2 separate regions of the Homo sapiens genome follow, and region 2 is linked to region 1. Evidence: fine-mapped expression QTL. A gene starts in region 1. The other region holds a variant in brackets. All regions are shown on one strand. Distances are from middle to middle.

Region 1 (5,262 bases):
TTTGTAATCTAATCACCCCACCCCTTATCTTGATACTCTTCCCTGACTTCTTGCTTTTGAATTAAGACGCAAACAACTTAGGATGGTGGACAAGCCCTTGCAGGATCAGATATCGGTCCACCTCATTCATACTCCAACAGCCTCCTCCAACCCACTTCATTCCAGCCACACTGGCTTGCTTTCATCCCATGAGAAAGGTCAAGTCTTTTCCCACTTCAGGGCATGAATTGTGTCCTCTGCCAAGAACAACCTCCTCTTTGTCTGTCTCATCCTTCACACAGATTAAAAGTGAGTTTCTCAGTGAAGCTCTCCTTGACCCCCACTTGTCAGGTTACCATTGTCCCAGGCTCCCACAGAATTCTGGATTTTCTCTGCAGTGGTTATTACACATTGCAGTCACTGGAGCGATTGTTTCATATGCATCTCCCCCACCAGACCAAGAGCTTCTGGAGAGCAGGGGCCACATGGAAGATGCTCATTCCTGCATCCCCAATGCTCAGCCCAATTCCTGGCACAAAGTAAGTACTCGATAAATATTTAATGAATAAATAAACTCGTTGCATTTGGCTGTTTCCTCCATTTGGAAGGCCCTTTTCATTCTCATCCATCTGGCACGTTGAGGCCAGCCAGCTCCTATATCGCTCTGATTAGACTGTGAATTACTTTCATGGCAGGACCTGTGTTCCCAGTGCCTGGTAAAGGGCATGGCGCACACAGCAAGCCTGCCGGTTGAAGCAGATCATTTTTACTTTGCTGCGTATCCAGGTCCTACATCACTGCCCTACTGAAGGTTCTTGAGTCAAGAAGCAGATGAAAAAATTATCAACCTTCTGTCTGATTCATAATGACTATCACCGGTAGTCATTTATTTTGTATGATTTGTCTATAAATCATACAAAATAAAACTGACAATGGTTAAGATGGCACCTGTGAAATTTGTTATGAACTCAGAAGACTCACATCTTAAAGGTAACACTGGAAATTACAAGAAGCAAAGGAAATCAGATCTGGTTGAAATAATCAATGCAAACTAAAACAGACTGCCCACGTAAAATTTGCTCCTTACTAAACATTTGTAGAGGACTGCCATTGACAGATTTTTGGACCCACAAAATTTTGCCAAAGGAAATGGAACTATGGCGGCTGGGCATGGTGGCTCATGCCTGTAATCCCAGCACTTTGGGAGGCCAAGGCAGGCAGATCCCTTGAGCCCAGGAGTTCGAGACCAGCCTGGGCAACATAGTGAAAGCCTGTCTCCAAAAATGAAAATCAACCAGGCGTGGTGGTGCATGCCAGTAGTCCCAGCTAGTTGGGAGGCTGAGGTGGGAAGATTGCTTGAGCCTGAAGGTTGACGCTGCAGTGAGCCCTGATGGCGCCACTGCACTCCAGCTTGGGCAAGAGGGTGAGACCGTGTCTCAGAAAGAAAAGAAAATAGAACTTGCTAGTGTCAATGCCTTTTAGCCAAAGACCACCAGGACACACCTATAGTTGAACAAGTTGGGTTGCACTGAGGGAGAGTACATACCATGACAGAACTATGGGGGGGTATCTTCGAAAAGAGGTGTTATAAAGAACCTATTACTGGATTTGAGCTTTTATGGGTAATTTAAGGAGGGCCTATGGAAGTTGGATTCGCCCTAGATTGGAAGTGGTCAGGAAGCAGGAGCCAATTCCATGATTGGGTATCTCAATAAATCTAATCTATAGAGAAGGCAAACTAGAAGAAAGATAAAACTGTAATTAGTTAGCAGGGGGCCGGGCACGGTGGCTCACGCCTGTAATCCCAGCACTTTGGGAGGCTGAGGCAGGCAGATCACGAGGTCAGGAAATCGAGACCATCCTGGCTAACACAGTGAAACCCCATCTCTACTAAAAATACAAAAAATTAGCTGGGCGTGGTGGCGGGCTCCTGTAGTCCCAGCTACTTGGGAGTCTGAGGCAGGAGAATGGCATGAACCTGGGAGGCGGAGCTTGCAGTGAGCCGAGATCCTGCCACTGCACTCCAGCCTGGGCGACAGAGCGAGACTCTGACTCAAAAAAAAAAAAAAAAAAAAAGAGAGAGAAAAAAAAAAGAAGTAGCAGTCACTCATTTTCTCCAAGACGGGTGTTTGGTATTTTGTGAGTGGCACAGTGACTGTGTTTTTGTCTGTGCTTAGACAAAATTTCAAAGTAGATTTGCTATGTCTCACTTTATCAGGCTCTCTGTAACCATATCTGAGGTTGTTATTTTGTGACGCTACGTACAATAGGAGGATAACATGGTGGACCTGTGATGCCAGGCTAGCTTCTGAATGTCGGGGTTCCCTTTTTTTTTTCTTTTTCAATAAAATAAGCATGAAATACAAAATATCACAATGATGGAAACCAAAGTAAAATTCGACATACAAATTTTAAAGAAGTAAAATCTTTATCATGAAATTTATATGTAAAAGAATCACTCAGTAAAGACAATTTCCATAAAATAAAAATGGATATGGATACTATTTAACTATGTTGTATTAAAAAAAACTGATCAAAGAATTGGTTTAATGGAAAATGCTCTGGAAAATTCTTTTGCAACAGTTCATCGCTGTTGATATAATCCTAATTAAAATTATCGGACTCCAGTTTTGGTGGAGATGTAAATTTGCTAGTGTCTTTGAAGAGCAATTTAGTCATATTCATGAAAATTAAAATTGCATGTGGCCTTTGACATAGAAATTTTACTTCTGGAAATTTACAGAGAAAGTTGCACGTGTGCACGTACATACAAGGATATTACCACTCCACTCTAGTATTTTTTGTAGTAACGAAGATTGAACAAACATTAATGTCCTCCAGTAAGAAGCTGATTAAAATTCAGTATGAGACATCCATTGTACCCAAAGCTAGGTGGCCTTAAGAAGGTCAGTGTCGCTCAGCGACAGGGCTCGGCCCCCCCTCGTGCAAACCCACCCCGAGGTGTGAGGCCAGGAGTGTGCGGTCACGAGGCGCCCGGGAAGTGTGTCCAATGCCCGAAGCAGCCCCCACCCGGGCGGTCCTGAGTCCGGGTCGCGCTCTGGTGTATCTCTTTTGACGTCTGCTACCCACAGCCTGGGGCAGGAGAGTGGCGACGGCGAGGAGCAACTGCACGCGACTTGGGACCTTGCCCTGCCCCGCGGCCCGCGTCACCATGGCAACTGCAGGCAGCCAGCACCGACGGCGGGAAAACGAGGACCGGAGCCGCGTTACAGCCTTGGCCTTCGAGCAGCCCAGGGAGAGTCTCTGCGTCCTCCAGCCCCCGCTTCCCTTCATGTCGGAGGTCCTAAGCCCGCAGCGAAGTCCGCAAAGAGCTTTCCCCGACGCCTACGAGACCGGAAGTGCCTGGGCCCAGGTGGAGGAAGGACCCGCGTGGCCGCCTCCGCGCTCTCCCTGGGGTCCGTGCCCCTTCCGGCGTTTCTCCCGCGTCCTTCACCATGGCAACTCGGGCGTCGGGAGCGTGGGCTGCGAGCCGAGTGGGTGGGGGAGCCGCCGGGCTCTATCCGCCAGCCCACGAGAAGTGACGCAGGTGACGGGAGGCCGCAGGGACCTGAGGGCGGAGAGGGGAATTCAGAAAGTGCCGGGCGGCGGCTTCCGCTTCCTCTGCGGGGTCTCTGGGTGGTCGTGGCTGGGAGCTGCCGGGGCCCGGTGGCCGTGCGCCTCTGCTCCGGGCAAGCTCTCCCTGCAAGGCCCGGGCGGCGGCAGGGGGCAGTAGCGGCCCGCGATGCTCAGAGGCTCGCTGGCACGGAGCTCCCGGGCTGGGGCGTCCAGATCTGGAGAAGCCGGGGGCCTTGGTCACACTCAGAGCTGACGTCCAGTGCGGCCCTTGCTGAGGACTCGAGCGAACAGATCTCTACCCAGCCCCCGCCCCACGCGCACCCAGCCTGGGTCAGCTCGCCCTGCCCGCAGCCACGCAGCTGGTGGCTAAGCGCGGGCTCCGGGTTCAGGCTGCCTTGAGCTCTGTTGGTTCCCTCTGAAAGTGCTGATAATGATAGCAGGTATCTTGGGATTGCTTTGAGTATTAAACGAGTTAATCGTACTTAGTACAATTTCTGGACTTAGTTTCTAGCACGTGGGAAGTGCTCATGGGCTTGCCTGGGGCAAGTTAGTTGACCTCTCAACCTTGCCTCATTAAAAAGTGGGGATAATAATAGTACCCACTTAATACCGTTATAATAATTACAGTAGTTAATATTTGTAAAGCCCCTTGCCTTCAAGAACTTAGGACATTAAAAAAAAGATTGTGAAGTCCCTAGAATGGTGCCAGGCACATAGTAAGCTGCCTCTATTATTACCATGGTCATATTGTTGTTATCACTATGTTAAATAAAATTTATAAGAGGCTATTGGTTTGGACTGAGCTCCTGCACTATGCCCAACAGATCAACCCAACATGGAGTCACTTATGCTGAAGTTCCGTGCCACCAAGCTGAAACTAAGTTGCTTATTTGACTTTCCTAGAAATTAGGAGAGAGAGACAGTTAATATAGCCAAATGCCCAAGTAAACCAGCTTTAGCTGGCATGATGAGGAAGTCCTCTCTGCTTTAACCTTTACAAGGAAAATAACTTTGAAACAACCAATTCGCTTTTTGTTCTGTGTTTCTGCTTTCTTCAGCCCTTTTCTGTCTATAAAGCCAGCCTCCTCAGCTCAGCTCATCAGAGCACTCATTCTGTTTTATAGAACGAGGCATCGGCTGATTCTAGAATGCAAATATAAGCCAATTAAGATTTTAAACTAAATTTCTTGTAATTTTTGTCTTTTGACAACTATTATCGTCTGTTTGCCTTGTGAGGTTGGAAAGGATTGCACTTGTCCTGCTACAAGGACTCTTAGTCTCTGGCTGGATTACAGAAACATTTGCCTGCATTTCTCCTTTTATTTCCCAAAGTTTTTCAGCGTCTTACATGGTTCTGTAGAAGAGGCAGGATCGTGTCCTTAAAAGACCACTGGGCTGTGAGTCAGGTGGATTTTGGTCTTGATAATGCTACTTGGGCAGGTCACTGTTTCCTCATCCATCTGTAAGCCTCTTTCAACAAAGGGTAGCTGGTATTATCTATTATGCATGTTTAGCCTTTCCGGTAAGGTAATATATTTAGTAAAACTAAATTAGCATCTGTCAGCAACTCTCCAGGGTAGTAGGAGAAGGTGGCAGGTGCTTTGAGGAAGTTACAGATGAGAAGCTATGGGATTCTGAGAAGGGAGAGTAAGCTTCTTAATTTATACTTTAATTTCTAATAAGTAGAAATGTCAAGATGTACGGGGG
Region 2 (5,491 bases), 29 kb after region 1:
GTAATCTCATTTCATTCTTCATTGTTAGAACTTAGTAAATTGCCATCAATAAGGTAAATGGAATTGTTTACGATCAAAAACCTTACACTCACTTTTCTAATAGGTCACCTCTATCTGAATGTCCTAAGATACTTCAAACCTAGCATGTCCAACACTGAACTCATTATCCTCCCCACATTCTGGCTGTTTCTTTTGCACACATGTTCCTAGTGAACAGCTCCCCCGTCTCTCCTATTGCCGAATTTATTCTTAACGTCTACCTCTGTTATACCCCCCGCAACTTAACGAGTTGCCGAGTCCTAGAGTTTTTACTGCTTAAATATCTCTCGGTTTTCTTCCTTAGCCCTACTGCCACTTCCTTGGTTCAATTTTGTCATCTTGCTGTAGGACAGTGGCTTTGTAATAGGCCTTTCTCTTTTTTTTTTTTTTTTTTTGGAGAGGAGTTTTGTTCTTGTTGCCCAGGCTGGAGTGCAATGGTGCGATTACGGCTCACTGCAACCTCTGCCTGCAGGGTTCAAGAGATTCTCCTGCCTCAGCCTACCAAGTAGCTGGGATTACAGGTACCTGCCACCACGCCCGGCTAATTTTTTGTATTTTTAATAGAGACGGGTTTTCACCATGTCACCCAGGCTGGTCTCGAACCTCTGACCTCAGGTGATCCGCCTGCCTCGGCCTCCCAAAGTGCTGGGATTACAGATGTGAGCTAACTTGCCCTGCCAGTAATGGGTCTTTCTCTATATAATTGGTCTCTGTATCTGCAAGTTCCACACCACACCCACAGATTCAACCAATTTTGGATCAAAAATCTTTGAAAAATAAAACACATTCAAAAATAACAATATATCTATGTTGGGTTAAGATAAAAAATTATTTTTAATATAAAAGTATTTTTTAAAAAAGAAAATTAAATAACAATACAATTAAAAATTATACAAATTTTAAAAATATAGTATAGCAACTATTTACATAGTTTACATTGTATTAAGAATTATATGTGAACTAGAGATGATTTAAAATGCAGGAGAGGCTGTGTGTAGATTGTATGCAAATCCCATGCCATTTTATACAAGGGACTTGAGCATCCATGGATTTTGATACCCATAGGGGTCCTGGAACCAATTCCTCCCTTCACCCGCTCTCTGCACATACCAAGGGACAACTAGAATCACTCTTTTTTCCCCACTCATCATCTATGCTGTAAAGCTAGCAGTTTTTTTCTCAGTTTTCCTTTTTCTTAAAAACTACTTTTTAACTTTCTGAGATTCACTAAACTATTTATTTATTTTTTTTAGACGGAGTTTCACTCTTGCTGCCCAGGCTAGAGTGCAATGGCGTGATCTCAGCTCACTGCAACCTCTGCCACCTGGGTTCAAGCGATTCTCCTGCCTCAGCCTCCCGAGTAGCTGGGATTACAGGTGCGTGGCACCACGCTCGGCTAATTTTCGTATTATTATTATTATTTTTTTTAGTAGAGATGGGATTTCACCACGTTGGCCAGGCTGGCCTTGAACTCCTGATCTCAGGTGATCTGCCTGCCTCGGCCTCCCAAAGTGCTGGGATTACAGGCGTGAGCCACTGCGCCCGGCCAAACTGTTTCTTTTATTTAAAAAGTAATAAATGCACATGGTAGAAATCCAAACAGTACTGAAAGATATGCAATAAAAAGTAAGTTCTCAGCTGGGAGTGGTGGCTCACGCCTGTAATCACAGCACTTCGGGGGGCTAAGGGGGGCGGATCACCTGACATCAGGAGTTTGAGACTAGCCTGGTCAACATGACAAAACTCCATCTCTACTAAAAATACAAAAATTAGCTGAGTGTGGTGGTGGGTGCCTGTAGTCCAAGTTACTCAGGAGGCTGAGGCACGAGAATCACTTGAACCCGAGAGGTTCTATGAGACCAGATCGCTACACTGCACTCCAGCCTGGGTAGCAAAGTGAGACTCCGTCTCAAAAACAACAAAAAATGTAAGTTCTCTCGTGGTTCCCTTCCCCAGAGATCCTTACTGTTGACATTTGTTGTCTCTCCTTCTACAAGTTTTCTCTGCCTGTAAAAGCATATCCTTAAAACATACATGCTTTCCACACCTCACACACAAGTGGGAATCCACTGTACACACTGGTCTGCACTCGGCTCTTTTCATTGACTATGTTACCTTAGAGAGCTTTTCTCATCTGTAAATGCTGGTCTCTCATTCTGTTAGAGCACTGTAGTATTCCAGTGGATGAACGTATTTATTTAACCAGTTTCTCTTGATGGATATTTAAGTTATTCCTAGGTTCCTGCTATTCTGAAGAGTCACCTTTTGAAAACGCAAATGTGCTGGGTCCGTCCCTGGCTCAGGCATCTTAAATGACTTCCTGCTGTTTACAGCTAGGCCTCCAGCTGGGGAGTCATGGATGCAAGCAGGTTGCCAGGGATACCCGAGGCCTCAAGAGAAATAATGGCATGTGTTCCTGGAGTTCTATGTAAAAATGTTAATTGAACTGCTAAGTGGTTAAAATGTTTTATATGGAGTCAACACAATTCTATTATGGTGTCAAATATAGAATTCTCATGCATTTTTCAGATGGTGGTGGGAGACTTCAAAAGAAATTTGTGGAGGTTTTTTCAAGCTACACTTCCAGATTCCCCTAAAGGCTCATGTTTTCCTTTCTTGCCTGAAGGACATCAGTGGAAAGATCTGAGCACCCAAGTCCACAGGATACAGCCAGAGCCTACTGGCATAGATTTGAGAGTCCACGTTTGATGCACGTAGAACTACTTGCTATTTTTCCTATTCCCTTTGCCTGGAAGGTTTCTGTCCTTTTCCATCTGGTATACTTACTACTCATCCCAAAAGGCAGTAAGTACAGCCTACTGCTGAAAAGTATGGACTTTGGAGCCAGACTGCCTGGGTTTGAATCCTGACCATGTCATATTTCTAGCTGTGTGATCTCGGGCAAGTTACTTAGCCTCTCTGAGACTCAATGATCTCATTGTAAAATGTAGGTACTGAAAGTAACTGGTAAGACTGTTATGAGGT[A/T]TAAGTGGGTTAATATACGTAAAGTGCTTAGAACAGTGTTTGGTACGTGGTTAGCACTTGATGAAGGTATTGTTGTTAATGTTATTATTTTTATTACTCAAGGTCTAGTTTCCATGATTCTCCCAGGTACCTTCTTCTGCCTTCCCATAACATCTGCTTACAGTACTCAGCACAATATTCTGTACTTTCTCCTCCCCTTTAGGGACGTGCTCTTTTGCAGAGAGGACCCTGTCTTATTTATCCTCATATCCCTTGTGTGGGATGCATACTAGACAATCAGTTGCTGTTGAATAGGTGTTAACTGAATGAGATAATAATTATAATAATAACATAATTATTATAATAATAATCTGAATTATTATATCTGTCTGTCTATTTGATTATGCAGTGACCAGTGATTTTTGGCCCTAAAGGGGCTTTTCACAGACCCCAACATGGTTTGTAAATAAAAACTTCACTGTAGAAACCATTCACACTAAACCAGTGCTTCTCAAACTGCGTTCATGCAGTTTATGGGCATTTTCCGAACACAGGTTCCCTAGGTTTGGGAAATTCTAGGTTACATAAAAGTAAACAGATATCTTAGAGCCTTTTCTAGGCTCATGTCCATAGAGGAATGAGTGGAACGTGGGATTCGGTTAGTAAATTTCTTAATCTTTTTTGACCAGAGCGCTTTTTTTTTTTTTTTTTTTCGCGGAAGGTGAAAACATCTGGTGGGTTAATTCTATGGAATATAGTTGTTGATAAATTGCACGAACTTAGCTCCATTCTCTCTTCCAGCTGATTTGCCTAGAGCCTGGGAGTGTCACTGACGTGCCATTTCCTGCCCTGACAGCATCTCCGCTTCCGTCCTGAAACCTTTATCAAGAAACAACTGTGCAGCCCACGAATCCATTCAGTCAAGATGTATTGAGTTTCTGCTATGTGTACTGACTGCGGGGAAAACAGGATTCTTGTCCTCGAGGAACTAGCTGGGGACTCGGGACAGAGTCAAACACATGCAACATGAGGCCTGGTATGTTAGATGGGCAGAGAGCCGGGACACTGCTGGCTGCGCAGGGAGATGGGGGCCGGAACGTTTTTGAGGAGGATGAGGCTTTGATTTCTCTGGTCCAATCCTCTCAGTGTCAAGGTGGGTAGGTGGGGAGATTAAAGTCTAGAGAGTGGTAGGTGTTTTGTTTTGTTTTGTGAGCTCAAACAGGTAGTCAGGGGCAGACTGGGAACAATATTGTATTTTCCCATTGCATCACCTGCCTCTGAGGCTCAAGTATCAAAATCAGAGAATCCGTTCACACAAAAAGACGAAACCAGGGAACACTTCCTTCCTTGTAGCTGCCTGTGGGTCCCTGAACTTGTTGAAGGCCATTCTGGGTTGGATATCTTTTCCGCTTCCATTTTCCTATCAATGACTCAAGACCATGTCTTATTTTTATACACATTTGTTTTCTCATAGCTTCCTTCTCTAATCATTTCTTGGCGAAGATGTTTGTGGCTTACAACATGCTGCAGTCAAAGCAGGGCACGCTTTGGAAGCCAGAGGGCGAGGTTCGGCTGGCTGCGGTTTGCCAGTCTGGTAATTGCCAGTGGGAGGAAAGTGACACAGCGAGAGCAGGGCCTTCAGAATGCCAAAGAGTTTGCGGTACTGCGGTCCCTGGTGTTCTGTGCAGATACTAAGCTAACAGGAATGTAATACAAGCACAGCAGATTGGAATGAAATAGGCCACCCACTCTCACTCCAGGCTCCTCAGTAGCTGCCCTGCCTGCTCATCCGGGGGCCCAAGGCTCACTCGGTGCCAAGGAACTAGCGTCAACTCCCCAAGAACAGCACTGCTCACTTCCCCCAGCAATTCTTCCCTGCTTTCAGAATGAAATCCACATCCATCCTCTGAGCCTCCCTGGTCTTCTGTCCCTATCACAACGTCTCTTCTGACCTCCCTATCTGCTCCGCCTGCTTTGTCAAGAACATGCCCCCAGCTTTCCCTGTCTTGAGCGTTTCCTGACACTGTCTTCTGCCTCTGTTTGTTGAAATCCCAAGACTTTTTCAAGGCCCATGAGCCATTCACAATTGTGTTCAGCTGCATATAAGAGAAGTGCTGCTATTTGGCTGAACCAAAGAGGGATTCTTTTATTTCATGCAACAAGAAGTGTGGGGACAGGCAGTCTAGGGCTGGGGTGGCAGCTCAGGAATGATTCCATCCAGGAACCAGGTTCTTTCCATGTGCTCACTCCTCTTTCTTTCTTTCTTTCTTTCTTTCTTTCTTTCTTTCTTTCTTTCTTTCTTTCTTTCTTTCTTTCTTTCCTTCCTTCCTTCCTTCCTTCCTTCTTTCCCCCCTCTCTCCCTCCCTCCCTCCCTTCCTCTTGAGACAGTGGTCTCATTCTGTCACCCAGGCTGGTGTGTAGTGGCACAATCACGACTCATTGTAGCCTCGTCCTTCTGGGCTCCAGCAATCCTCCCACCTCAGCCTCC

Which allele goes with the higher level. Positions count from the first base shown, and alleles are read on the strand shown. Sizes are in standard deviations (SD) of each study's normalised expression.
As copies of A replace T in region 2, the expression in unexposed skin of the gene that starts at base 2,935 in region 1 goes down (small effect, 0.31 SD a copy in GTEx).

Evidence for each region. PIP is the estimated chance that this variant, and not a neighbour inherited with it, causes the effect.
Region 2: its variant is the best candidate, but not a certain one, in a credible set for the expression of LINC03086 in unexposed skin (GTEx, PIP 0.60).

What each region holds. Positions count from the first base shown.
Region 1 is chr20:2,203,994-2,209,255 of GRCh38, forward strand. LINC03086 (long intergenic non-protein coding RNA 3086) reads left to right here and starts at 2,935. Exons shown (of 2, transcript NR_161305.1): 1 at 2,935-3,526. RefSeq lists enhancers at 3,026-3,526, 3,209-3,328.
Region 2 is chr20:2,232,616-2,238,106 of GRCh38, forward strand. It overlaps LOC124904860 (a long non-coding RNA gene), which reads left to right. Exons shown (of 2, transcript XR_007067501.1): 2 at 3,805-4,039. Among named protein-coding and RNA genes, the nearest start is that of LINC03086, 28 kb to the left of the region's middle. The variant A/T (reference allele first, on the strand shown) is at 3,025.